Homo sapiens: one gene and its partners. The protein of the gene in region 3 purifies or fractionates together with the protein of the main gene of each other region. This does not show direct contact. Each region holds a gene or a part of one and is shown on either strand. Other genes may lie near its edges.

The links.
Region 1: the proteins of C1orf54 (region 3) and GDF11 purify together in Homo sapiens (co-immunoprecipitation; 2 studies listed by BioGRID and IntAct, with this or other methods). This does not show direct contact.
Region 2: the proteins of C1orf54 (region 3) and TMEM131 purify together in Homo sapiens (co-immunoprecipitation; 2 studies listed by BioGRID and IntAct, with this or other methods). This does not show direct contact.
Region 4: the proteins of C1orf54 (region 3) and MGAT5 purify together in Homo sapiens (co-immunoprecipitation; 2 studies listed by BioGRID and IntAct, with this or other methods). This does not show direct contact.
Region 5: the proteins of C1orf54 (region 3) and SEMA3C purify together in Homo sapiens (co-immunoprecipitation; 2 studies listed by BioGRID and IntAct, with this or other methods). This does not show direct contact.
Region 6: the proteins of C1orf54 (region 3) and UGT8 purify together in Homo sapiens (co-immunoprecipitation; 2 studies listed by BioGRID and IntAct, with this or other methods). This does not show direct contact.
Region 7: the proteins of C1orf54 (region 3) and LRFN3 purify together in Homo sapiens (co-immunoprecipitation; 2 studies listed by BioGRID and IntAct, with this or other methods). This does not show direct contact.

The regions. Positions count from the first base shown.
Region 1 is NC_000012.12:55,752,842-55,755,928, forward strand, and holds part of GDF11 (growth/differentiation factor 11 preproprotein), read left to right. Parts: 3' UTR 1-3,087. UniProt on the Homo sapiens protein: Secreted signal that acts globally to regulate anterior/posterior axial patterning during development. May play critical roles in patterning both mesodermal and neural tissues. It is required for proper vertebral patterning and orofacial development.
Region 2 is NC_000002.12:97,989,125-97,993,390, forward strand, and holds part of TMEM131 (transmembrane protein 131 precursor), read right to left. Parts: intron 1-4,266.
Region 3 is NC_000001.11:150,270,995-150,275,836, reverse strand, and holds the start of C1orf54 (uncharacterized protein C1orf54 isoform b precursor), read right to left. Parts: upstream 3,048-4,842; 5' UTR 3,020-3,047; coding exon 2,974-3,019; intron 1,751-2,973; coding exon 1,667-1,750; intron 97-1,666; coding exon 38-96; intron 1-37.
Region 4 is NC_000002.12:134,257,072-134,260,571, reverse strand, and holds part of MGAT5 (alpha-1,6-mannosylglycoprotein 6-beta-N-acetylglucosaminyltransferase A), read right to left. Parts: intron 1-3,500. UniProt on the Homo sapiens protein: Catalyzes the addition of N-acetylglucosamine (GlcNAc) in beta 1-6 linkage to the alpha-linked mannose of biantennary N-linked oligosaccharides.
Region 5 is NC_000007.14:80,803,665-80,807,930, forward strand, and holds part of SEMA3C (semaphorin-3C isoform 2 precursor), read right to left. Parts: intron 2,095-4,266; coding exon 1,975-2,094; intron 585-1,974; coding exon 442-584; intron 1-441. UniProt on the Homo sapiens protein: Binds to plexin family members and plays an important role in the regulation of developmental processes. Required for normal cardiovascular development during embryogenesis.
Region 6 is NC_000004.12:114,664,503-114,668,768, reverse strand, and holds part of UGT8 (2-hydroxyacylsphingosine 1-beta-galactosyltransferase precursor), read right to left. Parts: intron 3,090-4,266; coding exon 3,013-3,089; intron 685-3,012; coding exon 465-684; intron 1-464. UniProt on the Homo sapiens protein: Catalyzes the transfer of galactose to ceramide, a key enzymatic step in the biosynthesis of galactocerebrosides, which are abundant sphingolipids of the myelin membrane of the central nervous system and peripheral nervous system.
Region 7 is NC_000019.10:35,938,837-35,943,102, reverse strand, and holds part of LRFN3 (leucine-rich repeat and fibronectin type-III domain-containing protein 3 precursor), read right to left. Parts: intron 3,694-4,266; 5' UTR 3,678-3,693; coding exon 2,263-3,677; intron 1-2,262. UniProt on the Homo sapiens protein: Cell adhesion molecule that mediates homophilic cell-cell adhesion in a Ca(2+)-independent manner. Promotes neurite outgrowth in hippocampal neurons.

The DNA of each region.
Region 1 (3,087 bases), on a different chromosome or scaffold from region 3:
TGAAAAAAAAAATAAAAGCGGTCAAAGAGTTTAGAATTCAGTGCTGAGCTCTTCTCCCTAATCAAGTGCCACATTTACACCTTGGAGAACCGGAGGTGAAGAGGATCTGAGACAGGAAACCTCGTGTTCAATGACTAAGAAGATGGGGTCCTGGAGCAAGACAGAAAACACTAAGGGCATGGTGGTATAAGGTTTGGGACATGCAGGCCAAGGAAGGATGGAAAGAGGACAGGAAACTGGGGGTACCTAGAACAACCCCTCTCTGAAAAGCTTGAGCCAAAACAGTCCCAAAGACAACAAGACCCCTCTCCCAGCCTCCACAGAATGGAAGATCTAAAGGTTCTCTTGAGATGATCCAGCTAGTATGGAAGATCTAAAGGTTCTCTTGAGATGATCCAGCTAGTGTCCTATTCTCCTGCAGTCCCTGTTCCTAGGTTTCCTCAACGAAGTTTGACAAAAATCTAAACCAACATAGCCAACGAACTTGCCTTGTTACACAAGAGTGGCTAAAATAGCATCTCAAATATTCTTTCAGTTCACTGTAAAAATTTTTCCCATGTACCTAGAGCACAATTCCCCAGGAATATGAGTTGGGAATGGCAAAAGAATATTGCCTGACTCACATTTTTCAAAAATAAGGAAAGCTGGCTGGGCGCAGTGGCTTACATCTGTAATCCCAGCACTTTGGGGGGCCGAGGCGGGCGGATCATGCAAGGTCCGGAGTTCGAGACCATGCTGGCCAACATTGTGAAACCTCATCTCTACTAAAATACCCAAAATTAGCCGGGCGTGGTGGCGTGCGCCTGTAATCCCAGCTACATGGAAGGCTGAGGCAGAAGAATCGCTTGAACCCAGGTGGCGGAGGTTGCAGTGAGCTGAGATCGCACCACTGCACTCTAGCATGGTGACAGAGTGAGACTCCCATCTCCAAAAAAAAAAAAAAAAAAAAAAAAAGGAAAGCAGGACCCAGTGGTGTGCTCCTGTAGTTCCAGCTATTCAGGAGGCTGTGGCAGGAGGACCACTTGAGGCCAGAGGGTCAAGGCTGCAGTGTGCTATAATTGGGCCTGTAAATAGCCACTGTACTCCAAGCTGAGCAACACAGTAAGACACTGTCTCTAAAAATAATTAAAGTAAAATAAAAATAAGGAAAGCTCCTGTGACATCAACCTGATCCAGAATTGGGGACAGCGCTACTGCGGGTTCAATGTACTGCCATGTTTTCCCTGTCTTATCAGTTCTATCAGCACACTGACCCCACTCGAGACCAACTACAAGACTAAGGCTGGAAGTGGTTGAGTAGCAGAAGTGTTATGTATTCTATCTTCCCAAGGGAACCATATCCACATCTACCCCTAACTTTGGCCTGAGCTGAAAATGGGTTTTCTCTCCCTGTGGCTCATTTGTTTCCTATATTGAGAGAACACCCAAAAAAAGACTACTCAAGATGACTTTTTACAAGTCTTTTCTTTATCCTAAAACATCCTCCAACCGAAGGCATGGGAAGCTATCCTATACTCTGACCTTGCCTATATTTTAAATGGCAGGGGCCCCAAGCTAAGAATCAGCAGGCAGTGGCATCTACAGCTTCTGGTCTGTAGTGGCGTAGAAGCAGGAAAATCAATGCTCCAAAGCAACAATGTCCAGCTTTCCTGCCAGTGAGCTGGGCTTGAGGGAGTGAATGGGACTCTTTCTGCCTTTTCTTTTTCTCAAAATACGACTGCATTAACTGGGTGTATGCACACACAAACATGTTCAAACTAGGGCACTCATACCTAGCTAGAACCTACTCAGGGAAAGAAATATGTATTTCCACAGTACCCTGATCACCCAGTAAAAGCTAATATTTATTGAATAATTACTATGCAAATTATGGTAAGCAAATTGTAGTGTGAATACATGATATGAGAATATCACTTAATTCACACAGCAACCTTCACAATGGGGTTCCTTTTGGTACAGTCTGAAAAGAGAATGATTATCTGCGCAGGGTCTCAGAGCTAGTGTGGTAGAATAAGAAATTAAACCTAAGTAGTTGCTAAACAATATTACATTCTAATCTATCCTATTGAAAGTGATCCGGGAGGTAGAAACCTAAATACAGGAATAACATAAGGGAAAGAGATAACAAGAAAGTTAGGGACACCTTGGACTCAAAGAATCTGGAAAGATGTGAAACCTGTAATTTTAAATCCCTTTGGAAGGGAAAAACAAGAAAAGTCTAGATATGGCAAGAGAAGGGGAGGTTAAATTTTGGGGGGATTCCAATAATCAGAAATAAGTGGCATTGCCAGAGGCCCTCATATAAGAGAACAGCAAAAAAGTTATCCTCCCTTAAGTTCCTCCCTCACTCCTCATATCAGACACAGCAAGAGAACTCAGCTCAACACCAAGAAGTCCTGCCCTTATTCACACCTTCCTTCCTATAGCCCTCATCCTCACAGAAGCTTCTAGCCTCTATCTTCAGCAGTTCTTAAGAGGTGGGGTGGGGGGCTGGGCAGTTTAGAGTGAGAGTGGAAAAAAAGAATAATCCTAGAGAACCATAAAAAAGTACAGATTTACAGCTGAGGAAGCTAGTTCTCCCCACAGCTTTTATAGACTCCCTCATTAAGAGCTTCCAGGTATGCAGAGAATGTCACAGCTTCAGGAATTGGAATCAGTTAACCACATCTGGATGCTGGATCAACTATAGTAGGGAAACGGGGAGAGGAAGGAAGGGTACTAAGATCTCAGGTAAACAATTACAAGCCTCAATGTCTGTTCCATCTCCAAACGGAATTACTATTTTAAAACTGAATTGGGAAAAAGGCATCCTGAACTATTCATGCTCAAAGAGTATGTGGAGAATGACTATAATGAGATAGGAAGGGGAGGACTTCATCTGGCTTGGAGGTTAGAGACTTCTGACCAACATAGGAACAGCTGCTGAAATGGGATGAAAGAGGTTAATAAGAAAAAAAAAAAAATCCTCACAAATTGGAAAACACTGTTCAAAGATCTAGGGGAAGTAAGATGAGTGAGGAGAATAATTAGGCTTCAAGAAGAGAATCCTGGCAAGTAAGGCTGAATATCTTTCTGGAAGGTTATAGA
Region 2 (4,266 bases), on a different chromosome or scaffold from region 3:
GCAGAAAATTACTTTTGAAGAAAACAGGCTATTTAAATATTGAAATATATGTATGTTGTGAGTTTAAGGAGCCTGTAATTGTCAGTTTTACAAAATCATCCGTGTTCAATGGTTGTAAATAAATTCTCAAAACATCATTTCAAAAAACAAAACAAAAAAAAAAAAAAGGAAGGAACTGTCACATCCTACAACATGGATTAACCTTACAGATATTATGCTAAGTAAAATAAGCAGGTCACAAATCCTGCATTATTCTACTTATATGAAGTATCTAAAGTAGTCAAATTCATAAACACAGAAAGTAGAATGGTGGTTACCAGGAGCCTGGGGGTGGGGATTAAGGGTAGGGAGAGAAATAGGAAGTTGTTTAATGGGTATAGACTTCCAGCTTTACATGAAGAAGTTCTGAAGATCTGCTACACAACAACGTGAATACACTTAACACCACTGAACTGTACATATAAAAATGGTTAAGTATTTTGTTATGTGTTTTTTTCACCAAGTTTCTAGAAAATAAATAAATGAAAATAAATAAAAACGTAGGTTTCATACTCTATCATGACTGACCATCTAAAAGATCCTCTTAAACATCAAACCTCTGCCCTAAAACGGCAGAGTTGTATGCAACAAAATCAATCAGGCAAATGGCAAAGGCTTTCTAGAAACCCTCCATCTGTGGTTTTAAAAGTAATCACATGGGAATTAAAAAACAACAACAACAAAACAGATTTGGAACTACAGATGAGAACTAATGACCACCTAATTCCAAAATGCCCTAATAAGAACAAAGCACCTTTGAACTTCTTCTGGAGCCCTTGGACCTCTAATGGAAGTCTGCGAGAGATTTCTGCCTGCCGAGGCAAATGCCACTACCAGCCCTTGCATTATCTCCAGCTCCTGTTAGTCCAGGGCCAGCTTCTGAGAATATTCCACAAGTCTAGACTAACTCATCACACCAATCTGGAGCTAAGCAGTATCTACAGAAGGCAATATTGCTTAACCTTAGCAATACAACCAGGTATCTAAGTCATCAAGAACAAAGAGACAGTAGCTTCGAATACCAAATATTCATTTCCCTGTATTATCCACTCACTGGTTTCCTTTTAAGAACCTTCATGATCCAGAATGGCCTGTGATTACTTAAACTGTTAACAAGTCAACAGAAAGTGATATGAAAGCTTGTGGCTGATTGAAAAAAAAAAAAAGTACATTTTACTTGAATACTAATACATGGGTTTTGCATGAACTGTCAAGTCTGTTCTTTTTGCAGTTGGTACAATATAACAAAATCTAATTCCTGAAGTGCTCATTTGGGGTTACATAGTTTGGCTCAAGGGACAGATGTCTTAGGGCGGAATCCTGGCTCCACTATTTACCAGCCCTATCACGCTGGGTATATTACTTAACCTCTCTAAGCCTCAGTTTCATGATCTCTAGATTAGGGTTTTATGAGAATCTGAAAATCTTAAAATCAAAAAGTTATAAAAGTGATGGTTTAGATAAGTGTATACAACTCCTTTTAGTTACAAGGAAAAGCAACATGTGGGGAAGAAAAAACTGGTGTTACTCAATGTCCTACTATAGCAGACTTCCTCATGACATCTGCACCAGAACTGAATTTTACCTGTACTTCTGACTCTCAGGTTCTCAGGTATAAAAAGTCCTATGCACTTTTTTCATATGCTTTGTAAATAGTTTTGTACTGTGTTTTGCACCTACGTCACAAATACAGCTTAAAACAAAAATTTGTGCATGAAACTATAGTACACTGGCAAAAAATTTTAAAAGTCCTAATAAAGGCTGTCAAACGTTACTCTGCCATTTAATTGCCAATTGATAGAACATGTGACTATGAAATTTAAATTGTCATAGGTTGAAACACTCTTGAAAATTTATTCGAATTTATATTTACTAGATACATAAACTATAGCTTCTCATTTATAATAAATTAAATGCCTTCCAAAAACCCACTTCACAATGAAATTATATTACAATGAAAGTTTAGGCAAACTTTCAATCAAAACTGAATGCCTGCTATTTATGTACTACAGATGTTGACAAAGGTTCTGCCCTACAGAAATTCCAGCCTAGGTGAAGAATGACACCCCTGAAATCATTTAAGTAGCTAACAAGGCAGTACACAATTAGGTGTCAAAATGAATGATGAATGATTAACAAAGACCACAAATTCAGAGGGAGCATGCAGGACTGAACAGAAATGGCGAAAGGCGGTAGGAGAGAGGCTGCTGCAGTGCCCCATGGTGAAGGCAGTGGGAGAGTGATCAAAAGAGGATGTAACAGGCACTGATGCCACTTGGTGAAGGGTCAAAACTGAATCCAGTGGGGCAGGCAGAATAATCATAGCATTAATAAAAAACTGAAAACTGGAGGTGGCGCAAGATAATTCTGCCCTGGACACATGCAGTGTGCACCAGCAGCTAGACACACACAGGGAGGAAGACAACCAACAGGCAATTGGAGAGCAGCAACTGTCAGCTAGGGCACAACCAGAACCGAGAAGTACAGAGTCACCGAAACAATGCCAGATGCTGCTTACAAGAGACCGTAGGGGAAAATTCAGCTGTAGGAAAAGGGCCTCTTGGTCTGGCAAGGCCAATCAGAGCGCTTGAGTCACATATAGGCAAGAGAGAGAACACCTAAAATATCAAGCACCTAGCAAAGATTTTATTTTCCTCCAAGAGTAATTTGGCTTATTGCTACTCTGGATAGTAACAATTAGATGAGTTTACATCTACTCCCAAAGCAATCTTGTTGGCAGATGTCTATGAGGGTCCACTGTAAGAATTAGAAGGAGGAGGAAAATGGTCATTAGCAAGAGGAAAAAAGGACACACTTTTTCCAACTACAAAACTCCAATGCTCCATCAGGCAACAGCCTTTAGTAAAAGCAGGCTACAAACGTTCATTAGTGAAGCACTTATTAAATAACATTCTATTTACAAGGCCCTAAATTAAAAGGTACCCACTCTACCCCATACAAAGGGTTAACACATCTCACTCTTAAGAAAATCACTTTCAAAAACATTTTAACATTATCGAGTAATAAGTAGGTTAAAAATAGTTTGGTTAAGAAAAAGTAAATAACACTCCTAGTCAATTTGGCTACCCTTAGAAAACTATTAGATTCTTATCTGTTTTCTTGTGGTCTTTAGTCCTATGCACTTTTCTCATATGCTTTGTAAATACTTTTGTACTGTGTTTTGCACCTATGTCACAAATACAGCTTAAAACAAAAATTTGTGCATGAAACTATAGTACACTGGCAAAAAATTTTTAAAGTCCTAATAAAGGCTGTCAAACGTTACCCTGCCATTTAATTGCCAATTAATAAAACATGTGACAATGAAATTTAAATTGTCATAAATTGAAACATTCTTGAAAACTTATTCGAATTTATATTTACTAGATACATAAACTATAGCTTCTCATTTATAATAAATGCCTTCCAAAAACCCACTTCACAATGAAATTATATTACATGATATATAATGCTTTTTTAAAAAAGGTCTTATTTGCCAGTCATAATGGGCTGCTTTATAATTCAAAAGACTACTAAAAGTATACATTTAATATATACACATACACATGTATTTTCACTATATATTTTAAAAATATATTTTCACAACTCACACACATTTTTGCTATTCTCAGTATCTAGATGTTAGCCTCAAGACAAAATCTTGCCACCAATCTAGAACTAGTTATTTGTAGTGATTATAACAACTTCTATCTCTGGAAACTCTTTCAAAGTCCTTACAAACTTTACATCACAGCCAAAACCATCTCAAAGGTACCTTTCCTCTGGACTAGTGATAGCACACTCCCATAGCTCAGTTAAGTCATATAGGATGTTAAGACAAGGAATGGTCCATGCTTCTGACTCAAGAAAATCAACATCAAGTCCAAACATGAAAAACTACATTAGGTAATTTATTTCTGCAGCTTTTCTTCAGGAGACAATGAGTTTTATTGTCTTTTAAAGATTTTGCAGTGAAATTATACAGTAATGAAGGAAAAGAAATACAAACATACAAAATACCTGCAGAATCATCATTAAAACTGCAGGTAAATCTTAACTTTGAAATTTTAAACTAGTTTATGCTACTTCAATAGACACAAAATTCCTCCGGGTGTGAATGATCAAACTGAACTCAGCCATCTTCAGAAATCTGCCCAAACTTGCTGAAAAACTCAACAGTACCTTTTAGGACAAATACTGTATTTGTGCCTCATCAGATGCCAGACT
Region 3 (4,842 bases):
ACTTATCCTAACCCTTTTAGATGTAGAGTTCACTCACCAGCCTGTCCTCTGACTCAAATATGGAGTAATCAATGGTGAAATCTGCACTAAAGTCATCTGCAGAGGAGAAAGAAAATCAGTAATAATTAAAGAAAAATGTAACTCTAGATCTGGAAATGAAAAGGGAAGAAATTACTCAGAATAGTTTAACTTAAGTTGTAACATTTATTGGTATAATCCAATTTTATTTAACTAATGTTAAAAATGACTGTGAATGTGTATGCATTTATATTTTCAATGTAGGTATCTAAAATAATTTACAAATTTGAAAAATTTTCAAGTTCTTCTTTTTTTAGAGTCAGGGTCTCACTGTGTTAACAGGCTGGAGTACAGTTGGTTCAATCATAGCTCACTGCCACCTCCAGCTCCTGAGCTCAAGTGATCCTCCTGCCTCAGCCTCCTGAGTAGCTGGGACTACAGCCATGTGCCACCATGCCCAGCTAATTAAAAAAAAAAAAATTTGGCCGGGCACGATGGCTCAAGCCTGTAATCCCAGCACTTTGGGAGGCTGAGGTGGGCAGATCACGAGATCAGGAGTTCAAGACCAGCGTGGCCAACATGGTGACACCTTGTCTCTACTAAAGATACAAAATTAGCCGGGCATGGTAGCACACGCCTGTAGTCCCAGCTACCTAGGAGGCTGAGGCAAGAGAATAGCTGGAAGCCGAGAGGCAGAGGTTGCAGTGAGCTGAGATTGTGCCACTGCACTCTAGCCTGGGTGACAGCATGAGATTTGGTCTCAAAAAAAAAAAATTTTTTTTTCTATAGAGACAAGGTCTTGCTATGATGTCCAGGGTGGTCTTGAACTCCTGGGCTCAAGCAATCCTCCCATCTAAAAATCACTATCTGGAAAAATAACATCATCATGAGTCTTTTTTTTTTTTTGTGACGTAGTCTCATTCTGTCGCCCAGGCTGGAGTGCAGTGGTGTGATCTCAGTTCACCACAACCTCTGCCTCCCAGGTTCAAGCGATTCTCCTGCCTCAGCCTCCTGAATAACTGGGACTACAGGCAGGTGCCACCATGCCCAGCTAATTTTTGTATTTTTAGTAGAGACAGGGTTTCACCATGTTGGCCAGGCTGGTCTCAAACTCCTGACCGCAGGTGATCCACCCACCTCAGCCTCCCAAAGTGCTGGGATTACAGGCATGAGTCACTGCGCCCAGCCCATCATAAATCTTTTTTCATTTTTTTTTTTTGAGATGGAGTCTTGCTCTGTCACCCAGGCTGGAGTGCAGTGGCACGATCTCAGCTCACTGCAACCTCTGCCTCCCGGGTTCATGCCATTCTCCTGCCTCAGCCTCCCAAGTAGCTGGGACTGCAGGCACCCGCCACCACACCCGGCTAATTTTTTGTATTTTTAGTAGAGACAGGGTTTCACTGTGTTAGCCAGGATGGTCTCGATCTCCTGACCTCGTGATCCGCCCGCCTCAGCCTCCCAAAGTGCTGGGATTACAGGTGTGAGCCACCACGCCCGGCCCCATCATGAGTCTTGATAGGTTTTGTTCATAGCCAGATTTTTCTCTGACCCCATTGCTCTGCTTCAAAGTGAAGAGCAAAGTCTCAGAACTAAATATCCTGAAGCCTCTCTCCAGTTGGCTAAGGGCAAGAGCCTTTCATGTACTCACCATAACTGGGGGTGACTGTATAATAATAGACCACCTGATAATATTCATCCTCTCCCAGTCTTTCTTCATCCTCATATTCTTGTCCTATGGGGACAAGGACTAGAGGTCAAGGGACATCTGGAACACCTTACTAACAAAAGGACACCTGGAGATGACCTCAGCGCTCCCAGCTTTCTTGCTCTTTCTTTCTTTTCTCTCTCTCTCTCTCTCCTCCAATAGTCATACTCCTTTCTTGCCTGTGCACCTCTACACCCCTCTCAGTCTTCTGGGATCCATATCTGTAATGAGGCCTGTTACTCCGTGCCCTTTCAATCCAGGAACTCCTAAAACAGAAAACAGTCCCCTTCACATACTATAAACCCAAAGGGAGAACCAGACCTAAAAAAGGTAGGAAAAGTAGAGACCAGGAATTAAAAACGCCAAGTCTTCTATTTAGTATGCTCCAGATCTTACTGTATTTGTGAGACATCTTTTCTTATCAGTATCTCTTACAAATAACTAACATACACCCTTAGGCTTTGGATTTGAGCTTTAGTTCCACCTTCACTGCTAACAGAATAACCCTGAACAATCCACTTAACATCCGCTTTCTTAAAATGAGTCAGCTGGACTAAAATGACCCATCTCTGTTAGTTTTTCTTCCCTTTCAGAACTAAAAATATGTGGCTTTGATATGACTGGATCAAGAACTCCAGGCCTCCTGCTAAACACTTCCCTGAGCTCCTTGAATGCTTTCCCTTCAACTCCAAGCTAATGACACAAGAATCTAGAGGAAAAGGAAACAATGAGACACACCTGGTAGACTGGGGAACAAAGGAGGGAAGGAGCCAAGCTACTCTTGGGACCCTGTCCCTGAAGACAGCCAGTTTTCCACTACCCTAAAGGTCACCCCACTTCTGTGTCTTTACTAATAGCAGGTTTTTTTCTCCAATTCTCTGGGAAAGGAGATACCCTAACTACTAGTTTCAGACTGTGACACCTTCCAATAATCCCTCCTTCACCCTTACTTTAGCCCCTGTCATCTTGTTCAACTTCCGTGGTGATGGAGAACTGAGCTCAGTGTTGCTAGGGCCTCCTTGTGTCTGGAGCTCCATCCTCCTTGTTTGACAGGACTCTGCTTTTTTCCCCCTTTCCTGGCTCTGCCTTCCAGATCTCCATTCTGCCCTCAACACCGGACCCCAGCACGATGAGAAAACTCTATCGCTCCCCACTGAAATGTACCTCTCACCCACTCCTCATTTTTTTTCTCCCACCCCATTTATGGTAGAAGACCTGGCACAAAAGCTCAGAGAGAGGAGTGGACTTACCCAGGATAAGTGGCACAGCAAAGATGGCTACAAAGAGGACATCCATTCTGGATTCTGCACTATTGCTGTGAAAGTAAAAAAGGAAATTACAGAGTTTCCCACCAAACTTACCCCGCCTCCCCTCCTCCTCCAAAGCAGGGAAGGAGCTGCAGCAACTCTTCTCCTCCCAGGGGGCAGAACTCCCCGCCTACTGGCTGACTGACTAGATCTCCGGTTACTGCCGGTCCCCAGCCAGAGCTGCCCAGATTGAGAGGCAAAAGGGGGTTTTGATGCAAACATGTTTCTTAAGCTCCCCCTGCCCTAGATTAGATCCATTCAAGACTCCCACTGTCACTACCAAAATAAAAATAAAAAATAAGCCTACCAAGAAGTTTCCCCTCTCCCGGCTTTCCTTCCTTCCTCCAAGGCCTCATAAAAAGTTCACCCTCCCTCTCACTGTCTCTGACTTACCATCACCACCCAGAGTTGCCTTTCTCTCTGAGGCTTCATCAGTCTCTTTTCGTCACAGTGGAAATGTTCTGAGGAAGGGGTGAGCATTTTTCTAGACTGAAAAGAATCCCTTTCTTCTGTCTGTCTGGAGCTATAGAGAATAGGAACAATATTTACCCATCATTGTCTGACTTAAAGCACCTGCTGCATGGCTTCAGCTAAAAGTCTCTCAGCCATGGTCAGTTATTTCCTTTCTGGTAACACTGACCTCACCTCACCTCTTTGTTTTTTTTTTGAGACAGAATCTTGCTTTGTCACCCAGGTTGGAGTGCAGTGGCGCGATCTCGGCTCACTGCAACCTCTGCCTCCCGGGTTCCAGTGATTCTCCTGCCTCAGCCTCCCTGGTAGCTGGGACTACAGGCGCGTGCCACCATGCCCAGCTAAGTTTTGTATTTTTAGTAGAGACGGGGTTTCACCATGTTGGCCCAGGCTGGTCTCGAACTCCTGACCTCAGATGATCCACCTGTCTTGGCCTCCCAAAGTACTGGGATTACAGGCATGAGCCACCGTGCCCGGCCTCACCTCATCTCTTTCTCAACTTCCAGGATGCAGGTTGGAAGAAGGGAGAAAGCAGATAGTCTCTTTCCCTGCTACAGGTGCCACACCTTCCCTCCCACATTCAGTCACTTGGTATGTTCCCTTCATTCCGTCCTACAGGTGTAGAGTTTTTATCCTTTCCTCTGCTTTTATGTTTCCCATGTTCATTCAATTCAGAAACCCTTAGCAACATACGTGCTAGGCACAGTGTGCTAGGCCTAGTGTGATAGGCAATTGAGAGCTTATAGGCAAGGGAATAAGAAAAGACAGTTTTGCTTTGTTCTTAAGGGAAGTTAATAAGTATCTGCTCAACATCTACTATGAGTCAGGCACTATGCAAGTGTCTGTGGAAACACCCATGAACAAGATAGGTTTACAGCCTCCTGTCAATGGTCAGAAGATGCTGTGGTAACAGCTCAATGGAGAGATGAAGCTGGCCACAGTGGCTCACGCCTGTAATCCCAGTACTTTGGGAGGCTTAGGCGGACAGATCACCTGAGGTCAGGAGATCAGCCTGGCCAACATGGTGAAACCTTGTCTCTACTAAAAATACAAAAATTAGCTGGGCTTGGTGGCAGGCGCCAGTAATCCCAGCTACTAGGGAGGCTGAAGCAGGAGAATCACTTGAACCTGGGAGGCAGAGGTTGCAGTGAGCCGAGATAGCACCACTGTACTCCAGTCTAGGCAACAGAGTGAGACTCCATCTCAAAAAAAAAAGACATGAGAATTGTCTCATTCCTATCCACCTTACTCTGCCTGCTGGGCTCAGAAGCAGGACATACTGGAGTCTTGAACACAGGTCATGATAACGCTACCCTCTTAATTTTTTTTTTTTTTTTTTTG
Region 4 (3,500 bases), on a different chromosome or scaffold from region 3:
CCAACCTGTTTTTGTTCCTTTTTCACAAGAGAGGTGGAAGGAAACACTTGCAAAAGCTCTCATTCGAATCTCAGAACGTTATCTGGATCTGCAACACAGGGCAGCTGCTAACCTTTCAGAGCAATCTTCGGCAGCCCTAAATGGTATTAACATCTTAGACATAGCATCCCAAGCCAATGAGGGCCAATCGGAAGTCCAAAGCAGTTACCTCTCCACTGCCCCCAACCAGCAACCAAAAGCCCTATGCTGGTTCTCCAACCGGCGTGTGTGCCTCCTTAAGGAAAAAACTTCCTTCCTCCCATAGAGAAAGCAGTGAACTATAGGGTGAGGTCAACATCTGGTTTCTGCATAAGAACATCCATATTGATACCAGAAGTCATAGCCTACAGGGCTCTGCATAAGCTGCCGGCTTCTCACTGCCTCAACACCTTCCATGCCACTGCTTGCTTGCTTCGTTCTAGCTACAGTGGCCTCCCTTCTACCCTGGAGTAGGCCTTAGGACCTAGCATACGCCGTGCCTTCTCCTTGGCATGCTCTGCCTCCACCTCTCTCTTTCCACTGTACCTGGCTGCTCCGTGTGTCATTCTGGTTAAAAGATACCTCCAGAGAGGTGACCTTCTAGTGCAAAGTAGCCCCTCAGATATTTTAAACCCTATCACCATTTTTCTTCCTGGAATGTACTGCTATCTGACTTTCTCTTGCTTATTATTTCTCCCTTCCAAAGATAACAAAGCATCTATGAGAGCAGGGCCTTTGTCCATCTGTTTCTCACTGTATGCACAAAATGTGGGGGATATTCCAGCCAATGACAGACATTTCCTGAAGGACCAGGCTTGAAAGACAGAAGCCAAAGGGCCAGTCCAGGACTAAAAAGCTCAGGGAACCAGGAGACAGGCAGAACGTAGGGAAGAACAGGCACACAGAACCTGGAGGTCAAGGAGGAAACAGGCAGCAGGCAAAGTGGGATGGGGGTCGGCAGAGAGAAGCTGGGAGCCCACAGCTGCTTGAGCCTGAGCTGGCAGCTTTTCTAGGACAGTACCCCAGCCCAGAGAAGCCAGGGTTAACAACGTGTGGATGGACCATAAGGGGAAATGTCACCTTGCCTCAGATTTCCATTACTGTTCATTAGAGAACACAAGTGGACCGGGTTTGTCCTGTTAGATAAGAGGTGATCACTAGGGATCAGAATTTGGGTCAGGCTGCTGGAGACAGAGATCAATTCACCTCAGAAACAAGAATAGCATTGACTCGGGTGAGTGGCACCATCCATGACACAATTCCCGAGACGTCACTGGCAGGCATGGCCCCTGCCACACTGGCTGGGAGATGCAGATGGGGCTGACCTGCAGAGGGCTCTGGCTCTACACTTGCCTGGGAGGCAAAAGCCAACACACTCCTCTCTGGACTGACAGAGTTAATACACAGAAAAGCCCTCCACACTCCAAGAACAAACGCACTGAATGTTCCACACGGGCTGCCCGGGAGTTCTGAGTATCACTTTGGAGTTGCCAAATCCCAAAGAAGTTCAGAAGTCTCTTTTCAAATCACCAAAACAAGGATGGGTTGGGGAAGGGAAGATACTCTTCAAGTTCTATTATTGTTTGAGTACTAGTCACAAGTCACACTAACAGCCAACAACAAGCACACAATGTCAGGCACCTGACACACAGCACTTTGCTCATGTCTCACAGTCCTTGGTGAGAGGCACTGACACCCCACTTTAAAGCAGTTTTGTGCTTCTAGGGCCTAAGCCATGCAGACAGGATGTGGCAAAGACAAACCAGTTGGCTCCAAACCCATGCTCCTAACCACTACAACTCTCGACCTGCCACTTAGAAGAAGCATTTTCAGAGGGCAGAGAAATGCTACATTTTATGTGTGCACCTTATGAAGATGTCGTGAGCGAATCCAAACACAGGCGTGAAAGAGACTTGGGACACACACACACACACAAAATCCAGTAGAGAGAGAGACTCACCCAGAGACTATCTAGGTCAGAGACTGATAAACATTTTTGGTAAAGAACCAGACAGTAAATATTTAGGCTTTGCAGTCTGTATGACAACTACTCAACTCTGCCACTATAGTGCAAAAGCAGCCATAGACAGCATATAATTAAATGGGCATGGCTTTCTTTACAAACACAGGTACCAAGGAAGACTTGGCCCGTAGGCCATGGTTTGCTGACTCTGCCTTAGACCATGGGAGTCCTGGGAAATAGTTGAATCAATAAGGAACTTGATCAGATGAGTATTTAGAATAACCATGGTGACTGCTGATTGATGGATTCAGAATGTTTCAGATGTTTTATGAAATAAATACTGGAATTACCGTGTTTATCTGTTATTGCATTTGTTACAAACAAATGGGAGTGGAGGTGTTCCAATAAAACTATTTACACAATCAAAGGTCCTGAATTTGGCGCATAGGTCATAGTTCACCGAGCCCTGCTGCCTTGGAATCTCTAACCAGAAATTCTAATAAATCAGCAATCATCTAAAATCAGCTACTACAATCCCTCAAATACCTACTGTATACCCATTTATCCTAAAAGCCTCTGATTATACCAATATGGGGATGAGATAAAGAAGGAATTTTTTTCTTCTTTTTGCTGGATTCATTTAAACCAGACACAAATCCTAGCCATACAGGATCAACTCTTCACTCTCAAAGCAGATGTGTAGGCAATGCACTGCACATAGGCTGCATTTATGGCAAAAAAAAAAAAAAAAAAAGAGACTGCAAACTAATGGCCTATGCATCCACATCACTGTTCTGCCAGCCCAGCTATACCATTGAGAATCCTACAGTCTCTGCACCAGCATGTGACATTAACTACCAGAGCTGCCTGCATGTCACACAATGTTACTGATACTGACAGATTCCAAGGGAAGCATATATCATCAGAATGGCTCTCCAGCTTCTAGGACTGGCCCTGGACTATACTAACTAATCCCTAGTACAATCCTCTTGTTCAATCCAAATTGTTGGTGCCAGAACTGGAAACCAGGGGGAACACTAGGCTTTCAAGTTTGAAATAACTAAAACCAGGCCAGGCACAGCGGCTCACACCTGTAATCCCAGCACTTTGGGAGGCTGAGGCGGGCAGATCATCTGAGGTCAGGTGTTTGAGACCAGCCTGGCCAACATGGTGAAACCCCGTATCTACTAAAAACACAAAAATTAGGCAGGCGTGGTGGTGTGCGCCTGTAATCCCAGCTACTCTGGAGGCTGAGGCTTGAACCCAGGAGGTGGGTGTTGCAGTGAGCCAAGATCACACCACTGCACTCCAGCCTGGGCAACAACGCAAGACTCCATCTCAGAAACAAACAAACAAAAAAACTAAAACCAGTTATCTGCTTGATAACATCCTTAAAAAGATGATGTCAGATAGCGTTTGTGGCTTCCACTCTTAGTACAGTTCTCCAAGGTGGCAGGAAGGGGATAATTATCACATATCTAAAGACATTTTGATTGTCACAACTAGGGAGCTGTTACTG
Region 5 (4,266 bases), on a different chromosome or scaffold from region 3:
TATAAATGGTTCCTTAATAATCATCTCTTACTGAGATATTTACTGTATTTTATTGACAACAATCAGTTTCTTTAGGTAATATGCAATTTAGCTATTGGTTTGAATACCAATGCATTAAATGAATATGCAAAAATTTGTCAGAAGTGTTTATTTGTTCAAGAACAAAAACAAAATATTTTCTTGAATTAAGATTTTTACTAAAATAGGGTATGTTTATCTCATATAACTTATTGAGGGTTAGAATTTGGGTTGGGGTTATAAACACTATATTCAATATAAAATGATGAATATTAAATATAATAATGATGATGAATAAATGTTACATTAAATGCTTCCCTCAATATTTTATTTATTTGTAATGGTTGATAATAAAAGCACGGAGATAAACCATAATTTGAATTTCTTGGTCTTTCTTCAAATCGGAACAGCATTAATACTTACAGGACATATTCGAGCAATCATGGAATGAATCTGTTTCGTGCTCCTGTTATTGTCAGTCAGTTTTTCTTTGAAGAAGAAGTACACCTTAGCATCATTTGGATCAGTACCATCTGGGATGACATGTGCATCTACAAACATAGGTTCTAGAAAAAAAGGTAAAAGACTAGGTATATATTCATTATGAAAATCCATCTTCTGTCATCCAAGTAGACCACAGGCAGATGCCTTCCCCATCTTTGGTAGAAAAAAACAATTCAACATTTACAGGCACATTTCTAAAAGCAGTAATTGCATTCACACACCATGCCACATTTGGAATGTCGAGTACCACAGGAAGTGCAGGAAATGTGAAAATTATTTGTGCACCAATGAGTTTCAAAAAATTGAAAAACTTTTCTACCAGTTATTTCCTAAGGAATCTGATGGCTATTTTATTGAAAAAAAATATTTATTTTTCAAAGTATGTTTTTCAATCTAGCACATATAAACTCAAATTTGTTGAAGCAGAATGAGGAGTTGGAAGTCCAAACTCTGAAAAACATGACTTTTCTTAAAATGCAACATACGAAATGAAGGGGAAACTTTTCAAGGAAAAACAGCGTCATTAGTCATTTGGAGACATACAGGGTTTCCTTATTTCAAGAACAAAACAACTTTTAGAATATTCTATTTCCAGATGTACTGGAGGAATAATCTGAATAAGTAAATGAACAATCAATGCTTTCTTGTGCTGGCCTATCAGCGAAATAGGATGCTTCACTGTGGTGATTCATGCTTAACTCTGCAATGTTAAATGAATTGCCACATTTAGGGTCAGCTAAAAATTTTCTCCAGGGTGAAATGACAAGAATCTTCGTTTTTTGTTTTTGTTTTTGTTTTTTTAATTGCTCTAAACAACAGCAATTGATTGGAATAATACGGTAAACCAAATGAGCACCTTTTTTGATGTGAATTCCATATGACTCCAAGAGCTGGAGGCAACTGAATATGGATAATCATAGTTATCATTCCTATGATTTCTACTGAATATTAGTCCATTTATGAGAAAATACATACCAGTTTTGTAATTTTAGAATCTAAGTATAAAACAAAAAGAGAGGAGGCCCCGGCTATACTCTGTTCATTGCATCTCAATGTCATACATTTGGGATAATTTTTAGATTTGGTATTGTTAAAACATACAAGCAGATTAAATGAAGTAAAAAGCATATTTAATTGCAATATGTTACAATTAAACAACTGGAGAAGATGCTTGGGTACTGAAATATAAATTATCACTGTCACTTTTATTTATTCATATTCATATGATAACTGTAGGATGATTAATAGAAATAAAGAATCGAAATATGGACTATGAGCTATTCAATTGTTTATTTTCCCCGAATATTTTAAATCATAGGGTACAGAATTACCATTATTCATGTAATAGCCTGCTATTTTAGTTTTTAACCATTTTCCCTAGTTGTTAGGATAGAATTAAATAAGTTAGTTTAACACGATACTAAAAAATAAATGCATCAAATGCTTTCTTACCACTTAGCCATTTGGAATTATGTTGATCAGTTCTGACCGCATTCCTCTTGGTTAAACTTCGAAAAATAGCAGCATCTGTCCCCATGAAATCTATATACATTCCAGAGAAAAGCTCCTCATCTATGAAAAAGAAAATATCAATGAAATGTAAATTTTTAAAGCTATTTTGAAATTCTAGGTGAGTTTATTTATTAGGAGATCACCACAGGTATTACAGTGTTATGATAATTGGTTATAACAAATATTAATTGGTTTGCATTGTCCAGCAAATCAATAAATTTTATAAATTTTAATCTTTTCTCATTATTGCCTGAATGATAATTACTATGTTTTTTAAAAAATCAAACCTCAAAACAACTTTATTCTATGTAAAAGTGAGAGTTCCTCTACCTGTACTTAATTATACTATATATTAATTTTTATATAGAGTCTATCAGAAATGGCAGACGTATAATAGATAACAAAATAGCTTAACTGTTTACCTATAATACATTTAAAAGAAAAACACTGTAAGAGTCAGAAAACATGGTTTCTAACTTTGGTAATCCCTAACAAGCTGGGAACTAGTGCTAAGCTATTGAACATCTAGAGTCTCAACCTTCTAATCTACAATGTATGGGAATTAGATTATGATCTTAAAAGTTCTTAACACATATTAAAATTTCTAAGATCATCCTAAATGGATTGAATATAATAGTTTTAAGAATTATTATTATGACATGACAAGGAGGCCACATTATAACTGTCAAAACATTATCAGTGACTAAAAAATGTAATCACTAAAAGTACATATTTTGATCTTTAGTGCTAGAAGTTTCCTGGTAAGGTAAACAAAGTGCTACTTTTTCAACTGCAACTCAGCCATAAAAATAGAATACGATAAGAAAGAAAAGATACTTAAAATTAAATAAATTTTCACTATTAACAGAATCAGATGTATTAATCTATATATACATAACATTCAACATTTACCTTATTGTTTGAAGATCCATATTACTTTTCATCTAGTAAGGAGCAGTAAGCATTGAATTGGTAACAAACGTGACCCCTGAGTATAAAACAGTAGCTAAATATCTATTATAAAAAGCATGAAATTTATCAGCCTGGCCCACTGAACTGCCATGCAGCTGCGTTCCTTGACTGTTGTTCTAGGATTACTCCCTGGGCTACCTTCAGACCGTGGTCATTTTGGCAGGATTGGAACATTTCAAAGTACTCTAAGCTCACTGTTTAGTAATAAGCAGTACCAGTCGGCCCAGCATTGAATGGAGAATGGAATGTATCTAATATGTGCTCGCCAGGTTATGAACTGGACCCCTACCAGTTAGCAAGCTGGTGTGGCGGGCATTTTGTTGCTCAGCTCTGCTTCCTAGTAGGGGTTCTAGGCCCAGGGAAACAGATTATAGGGAGATAACAAAAATGTGTATGAAGGCTTTTTTTTTTCTTTACCATTTTAGCTTCTTTAAAATTCTAAGAACATTTGTGAGGCTTATATACACACAGATCTAGCTATTAAATTGTGGCAACTTTGTAAATAATTATTTCACATTTTTGTATATTCAATTAACCATTAAACTGTGGATTATACATTCCTGCTGTTCAACAGATTGATTGGCACAGCTATCAATTGTCATATCTGTTTTCAAGCAGAAAAAGAAAAAAAGATACTAAGAAGTTAGTGTATGGCAGAGAGGGCTAATTCTAATCCTACTTCATACCACCTTATTAGTCATGTCTCAAACATTACATAAGCCTGCACATCTAATTGGCTTCATTTCCTATCTTAAATTCGCAGTAATTTTAACAGCAAGTAAGGAACTTTCTGCTTCATTTTATATCAATAAGAAATTTTTGATAAATGTCACTTTGGTAACAATCTTGAGAGGATTTTTTGCATGACCTTATGCAGAAATAAACTTGTGCCTTTTAGCTTTATTTCAAAAACATTTTGCTTTCCAACTGTATTTCTACTGACTAGAAAAACTTCATAAAGTTATGTAGGCTCTTTAAAAGATAACATCTGACTTCGTTGTTGCCTACAGCAGTGACTGAAAATAGCAAAAGCACACTGAACTTGCAAAACTACATCATGAAATTTGGAATTCTAATTCTTCAGGTTTCTGGTCATTTAATAGATATAAATATCTTAAGCAATCTGTGCTTTTATTAGCACACTGCGCTTGAATGGAAATGATAAAGTACTATTACATGGTTAAGGGAGATGACCACAGAAATCACAGGAGATAATTTGAGAGGGATAATCAATTGGATGAATAAAATGATAACTACAAT
Region 6 (4,266 bases), on a different chromosome or scaffold from region 3:
ATGCAGTACAAAGAACACTGTCTTGGGAATCAGACAGTCCTGGCTTCTAATTTCAACTACAATTGCTGTGTAAGCCAAATTACTCAAGTTCCATGAATATCAAGTGCCTTGCCTCTATAATGTGGATAATAAAAACTGTGATATACAGCTGTTATAAGTATGAAAATGAAATAAAGCACATAACATTTGACACAATGTAGATATCCAAAGATTGTTCCCATTGCAGTTTCTCCCTGTTTGGAAGATCCTTGCAGAATATTATCTGGTGTCATAACATGGCTGGTCAAATGACTGCTGTTTTCATTTTCTAAATAATAGAAAACATGCACAAAGCATTATCACAGGAATCTAAAGGATATTTCCATAATTTGATAATTTATTGACAATCTATTGAAAATAATTGGCTACTGACAATATACTGTGGTATGTAAGTTCATCAGCTTTAATGTTAATTGAAACCTTACCTGGGATTATTGATAACCTTCACTAGTGCTTCATAGAGCTCTTTTTCAGTAACTGTCTTCCATTCTAGCAATATCCCCATGCCTTTTGCCTGTACTCTGGTCATAGTATCATAATGGTCTCCAAAGAGTGGAATTCCCACTACAGGCACACCATGATATATAGTTTCAAAAATACTGTTCAAACCACCATGGCTCAGGAAGGCTTTAATCTTTGAATGCCCTGAAGAAAGATGAAAAAGAAAACAACTTACAACATTATTACTCTACAGAAGAGATTTTCCCAGAAATTCATTAAAAATCGGCACTACAGTAAACATGCATTTCAGATAAAGGATTCCTAAAGGTGTAATTTCACTGATTCCTGCTCTACACCAATTAAAATATTTGTTATATACCTAATTGTCAGATTTTGATATATCAATTAAAAGCCATTTTTAAGTAGTTGAAATGTATATTACTATTTTTAACACAAATATTGCATGACTAACAACACATATTTAAATGGCCAATAATTATTATGAAGCCAATGAAAGCAAGAAATGCCAAACAATACCAGAGTGAAAAAACAGACATCTACTTTCTGGCTACTCAAATGTTTATCAATATTAAAGTCAAAAACACTTTTTAAAAAAAATGTAAAAAAGGGCTGGATTCCAGAAGTCCATGAAGAGTTTGTGTGCTTCTCCAAAAAGAAATGTTGTAATCACTATTCACAACATTCAAGTTCTATCAGCATTAATATTTCACAATTTTAAGGTTTAATTTTACATTTATGTGCTCAAACATGTAGAGGTAAACATTTATAATCATTTGTAAGACATGAGACATCACATAACATTTAGTTGTTATGGGAATAAAAAAGATAATTTGTCAAAATTAATATGGAAGTTCAAAACCTAGATTTACTCTCCTGGTAAATGGCCTACATTTCTATAAAAGGGATCAAAAGTTGGCATAAGAGTTGTAAAAACAAAACAAAACAAAAACATTGTACTTAGGATATATGTTATTGGCCAGAAAGAAATTATAGCTAGCTGAAATGTCGATCTTTTAAAATACACATGTGCCAGGTACAAAATTAATATGTATGGGAACCATGGTCTCAATGGTGCTCCCAGAGCTCTTCCATTCTGAAGACTGGTGGAATTGGTTAGTCAGTGTCTCTAGCCCTTACCCACAAGTGGCTTTTCTGACTCTTAGGTCCAACTAAAGGATCTGCCCTAGAAGTGGATTTCAAACTTTATTTTTAGCAAAAACCCCTCTCTTTGAACAAAACCTACCACCAAACCCAACAGTTAAATAAAGCAGAGCTGCTGTGTAAAGAGGAGGGGCGGCTACGAGGGGAGGGGAAAGACATTGATTTGGTTCCTACTTCTCATCCCGGAAGAATCTTTTGATCATAGTTAGAAGCTATTAGAGGACTCACAAGGATAGTGCCTATTGTTAAAAAAGATACTAATCTTGAAAAAGTCAGAGTTCTCACACTGAGAAGCCTAGAGCAGCTATGGACTTGAGGAGAGTTTTCAGGCATGGACCTTGCAGTAGAGCCTCACAGTCAAAAAAAAGAAAAAAAGAAAAACAATAAGAAATGGAAAACCCACACACAATAAAAGTTTAGATGTTCATACATAACAGTGTCACACTGTCGCACTGAAATAGTTGATAGTCAGGTTATCTCACTTAAACTTCCTGCTTCTTTCCTATCTTCTAAGGAATCTAAGTCATAACAGTAAAGCCATAAAAGATTTAAAAATAAAAAAATACAAGGATCAAGAAAGGTAAATTGCCTTGTATTCTTTTTTCTTTAGTTTTAGCATTTATAGAATAGTATTATAATAAGCTAGATGAAAATAAATTATATACATAAATAAAATTCTTTACTGGTTTTTAGTTAAATTTAGTTAAAAAACTAATTTAGTTAAAAAACACACTTAAAAGATACGCATATACTAATTACTATTTTAATTTTGAGAATCAAAATCCCCAAGATTAAATAATATAAAATGCTTCAAAAATGCCCAATGATTTAGGACTAAACAGAGCAGATAATCCAGTTAAAGTTAAAATAAATTGACTGTTCCCATGGTCTTCTGCTTCTCTTTGGTTTCAGACAAATGAATAACTTCTAATTTCTCTTGGTTCTCAGACCATCTGTAACAAACCTGTAACCTAAATCTACATTCTTATTGTTTTAACTGTTCTACTTTCATCTGATTACTCTAATTAGGTATAATCTTATTCACTACTAATTTATATAGTTCATTAAGTACATAATTTCCAGATAATTAAAATTGATGGCTGGTCTAAAAATTTTAATATAGAGGCCCAAAGGTTTACATTTTACAAACTGTTTTCCAATAAATAAAGACTTAAAATTTTGGCCTCAAATTTAAGATTTGAGATACTGGATAAAAAACATAATAACTCTACCATATACTACATACATACCGTATACCGTATGAACCTCTGAAGTAAAAAAAAAAAAAAAGTCACATTTATGTAATTAAAACCTAACAGCCAAGTAAGTAACCACACATCATTGACTTACCAAGCAGGTCATTTTGTGGTAACCATTCTATGAGTTTAGTGTTGTTTCCTAGATTCTTTGGTTTGGGTCCAGAAAACCTAAAATGTACACCAGACAATTAGTCTTTTAAAAATCAAACCTTACTCATAGTATGGGCTCTCTGATTAAATTATGAGATTTAAAATAAATGTTTGATGATCTTTTGTTGATATTCTTAAGAATGAAACCATGCTTTGGTAACAGCAAATATTTGATTAAGTTTCTTTTTAATAAAAACTTTCACTGGTTGGAGGAAAAACAAGAAATAATTTGCTTACATAGAGATCTATTTTCCATTGGTTCCTCACGCCTATACACATACAGAGATGGGAAAAACAAACAAACAAACAAACAACAAACAAATAAACCTACACTAGAAGTTATTCCCCACAAACAGCCAGAAGCTGGAACAAGAAGGAGCAGGGAGAGCTGCCACTGCTATGGCAGTCAATATCCCTAAATCCTTAACACCCTGAGTCTGAGGGAAGGCAGAAGTATTGAAAAAAATCAGTAAGTTCTCTTCTTTAGCTTCACCAGAAATAAAAGTTTTGTGGGGTGAAGCACATAATTAGGTTGTTTCCTGCCTGATCTTTAAAAGATAAAACAGAAATATGCTTAACAACTAAGAGGGTGACAAAAGAGTCTGAATGGAATAGACATAAACTGTCCTAAATGAAGCAGAAGAGGTACTTTCTGGGGTTAAGCCTAACAGAGGAAACCCAATGGGACTCGAATCTGAAGGGAAAAGTCCTGAACAGTTAGAATAAAATAAATATCACTGCATAGTTCAGCCAGGAGAAGTGGGAGCTAATCCTTACTCATTTGCTATAAAGGGAAAATCTCTATTACTCAAAGCCTACTTGCAATGGCTTAAGGGGCACTTTCTTCCACTCATGGTAGTAACTATGGGACCGACGTTGTATCCCTAGAGTTCAACAGTGGTAGTACGTGCTCAATAAATACACGCTAAATAAAGTGTTCACGTCTGATTTTTCAGCATTGGGCTGGAAATTCCAAAGACAGTCATGTGCTGGCAATGCCTTCCAAAAGAAGCTGGGGTCAATCTATGGTTCTGTCTTAAACCGTGTTAAATGGTACGTGATTGTGTTTTTAAAGGCCAGGTTTCTTAAATAAAATAAATCAAAAACATAATGTAAAGGAGACAAAGTGGGAGCCCAAAAGAGTCCACGGTATTTTAGGTATTCGTTAATCCATCATTTTCTTCCTCATTTCAAA
Region 7 (4,266 bases), on a different chromosome or scaffold from region 3:
TCTAGGACAGCATTCATCCCATTCCCCACCTGGCAAGGTGGCCAGGACTTGTGTGACTTTTTTTTTTTTTTTTTGAGACGGAGTCTCACTCTGTCACCCAGGCTGGAGTGCAGTGGCACAGCCTCGGCTCACTGCAACCTCCGCCTCCCAGGTTCAAGCAATTCTCCTGCCTCAGCCTCCTGAGTAGCTGGGACTACAGGCGCGTGCCACCACACTCAGCTAATTTTTTGTATTTTTAGTAGAGACGAGGTTTCACCGTGTTAGCCAGGATGGTCTCAAACTCCTGACCTGGTGATCCACCTGCCTCGGCCTCCCAAAGTGCTGGGATTATAGGGGTTAAGCCACCGCGCCTGGCCGACTTGTGTGATTTTCAGGGGCAGGACTTCCGTGCAATCTTCCGAGTCATGTCTGAGAAAGGGAGTAGAATGAGCTCAGTGGGTTGCCAGGACTGAAATGGAAATCAAGTGGCCTTTTCTTGAGGTGTTGGCCCCAAGGGAGGGAAAGGACATCCAGGTACTACTAGGTCCCCAAGGAACAGTCCTCAACCCTGGGGAGGTCCAGTCTTTACAGTCAGCCTTGGGGCTGCACCCTTGGCCCAGCCTGGCCGTGAGGACAGGGACTCACCCACAGCCGCAGTCCATCCATGCAAGGTTGGACTTTGGTAAGAGGTGTCAACAGCACCTAGGTCAGCAGCCACCACTGCTGACCACATGCGGTCACTGCAGATGTGCTGAGTGCTCTCCAGCTTGGGGGAACAAGTTGGACTGAGCCACCTCTTGGAGTGTGTAAACCCCAGGTTCTGTGTTTGCAACAACAGGAGAGAGAAGAGAATCCCCCACAAGTGTGGCAAACTGGATATTTCTGTTTACCTGGCAAAAGGAACTTGAACTAGGTTTGATTTGATTTAGAAAATAAAAAATCTGTCGGGCGCGGTGGCTCAGGCCTGTAATCCTAGCACTTTGGGAGGCCGAGGCGGGTGGATCACGATGTCAGGAGATCGAGACCATCCTGGCTAACATGGTGAAACCCCATCTCTACTAGAAATACAAAAAATTAGCCGGGCATGGTGACGGGCGCCTGTAGTCCCAGCTACTCGGGAGGCTGAGGCAGGAGAATGGCATGAACCTGGGAGGCGGAGCTTGCAGTGAGTCAAGATTGTGCCACTGCACTCCAGCCTGGGCAACAGAGTGAGACTCCGTCTCAAAAAAAAAAAGAAAAGAAAAAATCTACACTGGGTGTGGTGGTTCACGCCTGTAATCCCAGCACTTTGGGAGGCTGAGGCAGGTGGATCACCTGAGGTCAGGACTTCTAGACCAGCCTGGCCAACATGGCAAAACCCCGTCTCCACTAAAAATAAAATGCAAACATTAGCTGGGCGTGCTGGTGCACGTCTGTAATCCCAGCTACTCGAGAGGCTGAGGCACAAGAATCGCTTGAACCCGGGAAGTGGAGGTTGTAGTGAGCCGAGATTGCACCACTGCACTCCAGCCTGGGCGACAAAGTGAGACCCTGTCTCAAAAAAAAAAAAATCTGGATGTCACTATATTAGAACTTGAAACATGGAATAGTTCACACCACACACACCGAAGCCCAGTCTCTATCGAACCTCCTCCCTGCAATTTCCTTCTAACCTCTGGTCTGATTTCTTTTTCTAACAGAGCTGCTTATTTCATTGTTTCTGGGCTCCCTGTGCTTTCCTGTTTGATCTCCTTTTCTTCCTGCAGCCCAGCTAGTATCTAGTCCTGTCATCTGGAAAACCTGGTGTTTCTCTCTTTATCTTTACAACTTAAATTTATTTTTATCCCCTTATCTTCCCCACCCACCCTTGCCCATTAACATTTTATTCTTCTGCCCTGATTACTTTCTCCTCCCGCTGCCTGGTTTCCTTTTTATGTTTGCTACTACTATTTATTCTTGCTGCCTAATTTCTTTTTACTCATGCAGCCTGATTTCGTTTATCCTTATTGCTTGATCTTTTTTAGCCCTGTAGCCTGATATATTTTAACATTTGCTGTCTCATTTACTTCGTCCTTCTTGTCTGACTTCTTTTTATCACTGCTGTCAGATTTCATTGACCCTTTCTGCCAGAGTCTTGTTATCCTTGCTGCCTGATTTCTTTTACTTTTGCTCTCTGATTTCTTTTGGAACCTTCCAGCATCACTTATCAGTTGTGCTTCGGTGTAGGGTATTAGTAGGTGTACCCTCAACCCTCCCCTTGCCTCACTCCCCCACCCAAGCTACCCCAGTGCCTGGACCCTGCACCTGTAGACGAGGATGTCATCAGCCGAGCTGTTGTACTGGATCTGGTACATGCGGATGCCCGGGATAGGCCGCTGATCCGGCCACTGGACAAGAGCAGCTGTGGCCCCGTGCTCAGTCACCTGGACGCCACGGTCGGTAGGGGGCCCAGTGTCGGCCACCTTGGCAGAAGCAGAGGCAGCGGAGGGTGGGGTGAGAGCATCAGGATCCCCGTCCCGCGGGGGGTCACAGCTGGTGCTGTTGGCTAGCTGAGGAGGTGGTGGGGGACCCACAGTCAGCTCCACAGCAGCTGTGGCCTCGCCAGCTGCATTGGCCGCAATGCAGGTGAAGATGCCACCATCACCCGGCTCGGTGACCAGCAGCTCCAGCGTCCCATTGGGGAAGGCGCGGGCACGGCTTGAGTTGCCTAGCAGCCGGCCCTGGGGTGACACCCAACGCACACGGGGCTCTGGGTCCCCCACTGCCCGGCAGCGCAGGGCAGCCGGCCGACCTGCGGGCACAGCCAGAGGTGGTGAGCGGTGAGTCACCACGGGCGGCTCGCAGACAAACTCCTCCTCGCCCACCGCCCAGAAGTAGCGGCCGCCCAGAGCAGGTGGGGACGCGCAGGCCTCGAGGTCGTCCTCCCGCGCCAGGCGACGCAGCCACACCAGCTCGCAGTTGCAGTGCAGGGGGTTCCCGCCAAAGGCCAGCACCAGGGCAGAGGCGGGCGAGCCCCGGGGCCTGGCGAGCAGGGGCAGGCGGGAGAAGAGTGGGTCGGGTGGGATTGTGGTCAGGCGGTTGGAGGTCATGTCCAGCCGGGCCAGCTTGTGCAGGCGGGAAAAAGCGCCGGCGGGCACAGAAGCCAGCAGGTTGTGGTCGAGGCCCAACGTGTTGACGTTGCCCAGGCGGCCCAGGGCCTCCCAGGGCAGCTGCTCGAGGTTGTTGTAGGAGAGGTCGAGGTCCTCCAGTGTCTCGGCACAATCATCCAGGGCGCCGGCCGCCAGCGCTGCCAGCTGGTTGTTGCTGAGGATGAGGTGGCGCAAGTTGACCAGGCCGCGCAGCTGGCCCTCGCCCAGTGAGGTCAGCCGGTTGCCATCCAGGTGCAGGGCACGCAGGGCCCGCAGGTCGGCGAAGGCGCCGGCAGCCACGTGGCGGATGGTGTTCCGCGACAGGCTCAGATGCAGCAGGCCTGTCATGTTGGCCAGGTCGCGGCGGCGCACGGAGGCGATGAAGTTGTCTGCCAGCCGCAGCTCGGCTGCCCGGCGGTCCAGCGAGGGTGGCACGAACAGGAGGCCTGCCCCTGGGCACAGCACGCTTAGGGGCAGCGACTGTGTCTGGCAGCGGCAGCGGCGGGGACATGGGCTGGGTGTGGCTGACTGGGGTGGGGATGAGGCAGGGGCCAGCGGCAGCAGGCACAGGAGCAACGGGAGGATGGCCATCGCGGGCAGGGGTGTCCTGCGGAGAAGAGGGGAGGCGTGAGGGCAGAAGAGGGGTTCTGCAGGGGCTGGGGGTGGTCTGAGACCAGGAGAGAAGGTCACAGTGGGCTGAGGGCAGAAGGGCTGGTCAAAGACCGTCAGATGTGACCAAAAGCCAGAGGAAGGCCAGGCGCGGTGGCTCACACATGTAATCCCAGCATTTGGGGAGGCTGAGGCAGGAGGATGGCTTGAGGCCAGGAGTTCAAGACCAGCCTGGGCAACAAAGTGAGACCGTGTATCTATTATACAAAAATTTTTAAAAATTAGCTAGGCATGGTGGCGCCCACCTGTGGTCCTAGCTACATGGGACACTGAGGTGGGAGGATCAATTTGAGCCCAAGAATTTGAGGCTGCAGTGAGCTATGATTGCGCCACCACACTCCAGCCTGGGCAACAGAGCGTGACTCTGTCTCTCCAAAAGAAAAAAGTAAAGAAATGGTCAGAGAAATGACAGCTGGTCTGGGTGAGTGGCAGGAAAACCAGAGGGCTTTAGACGTGGTCAGAGATGGTAAAAGCTGGCCATGGGGAGACGGGGCAGCCAGGGTGGCAACAA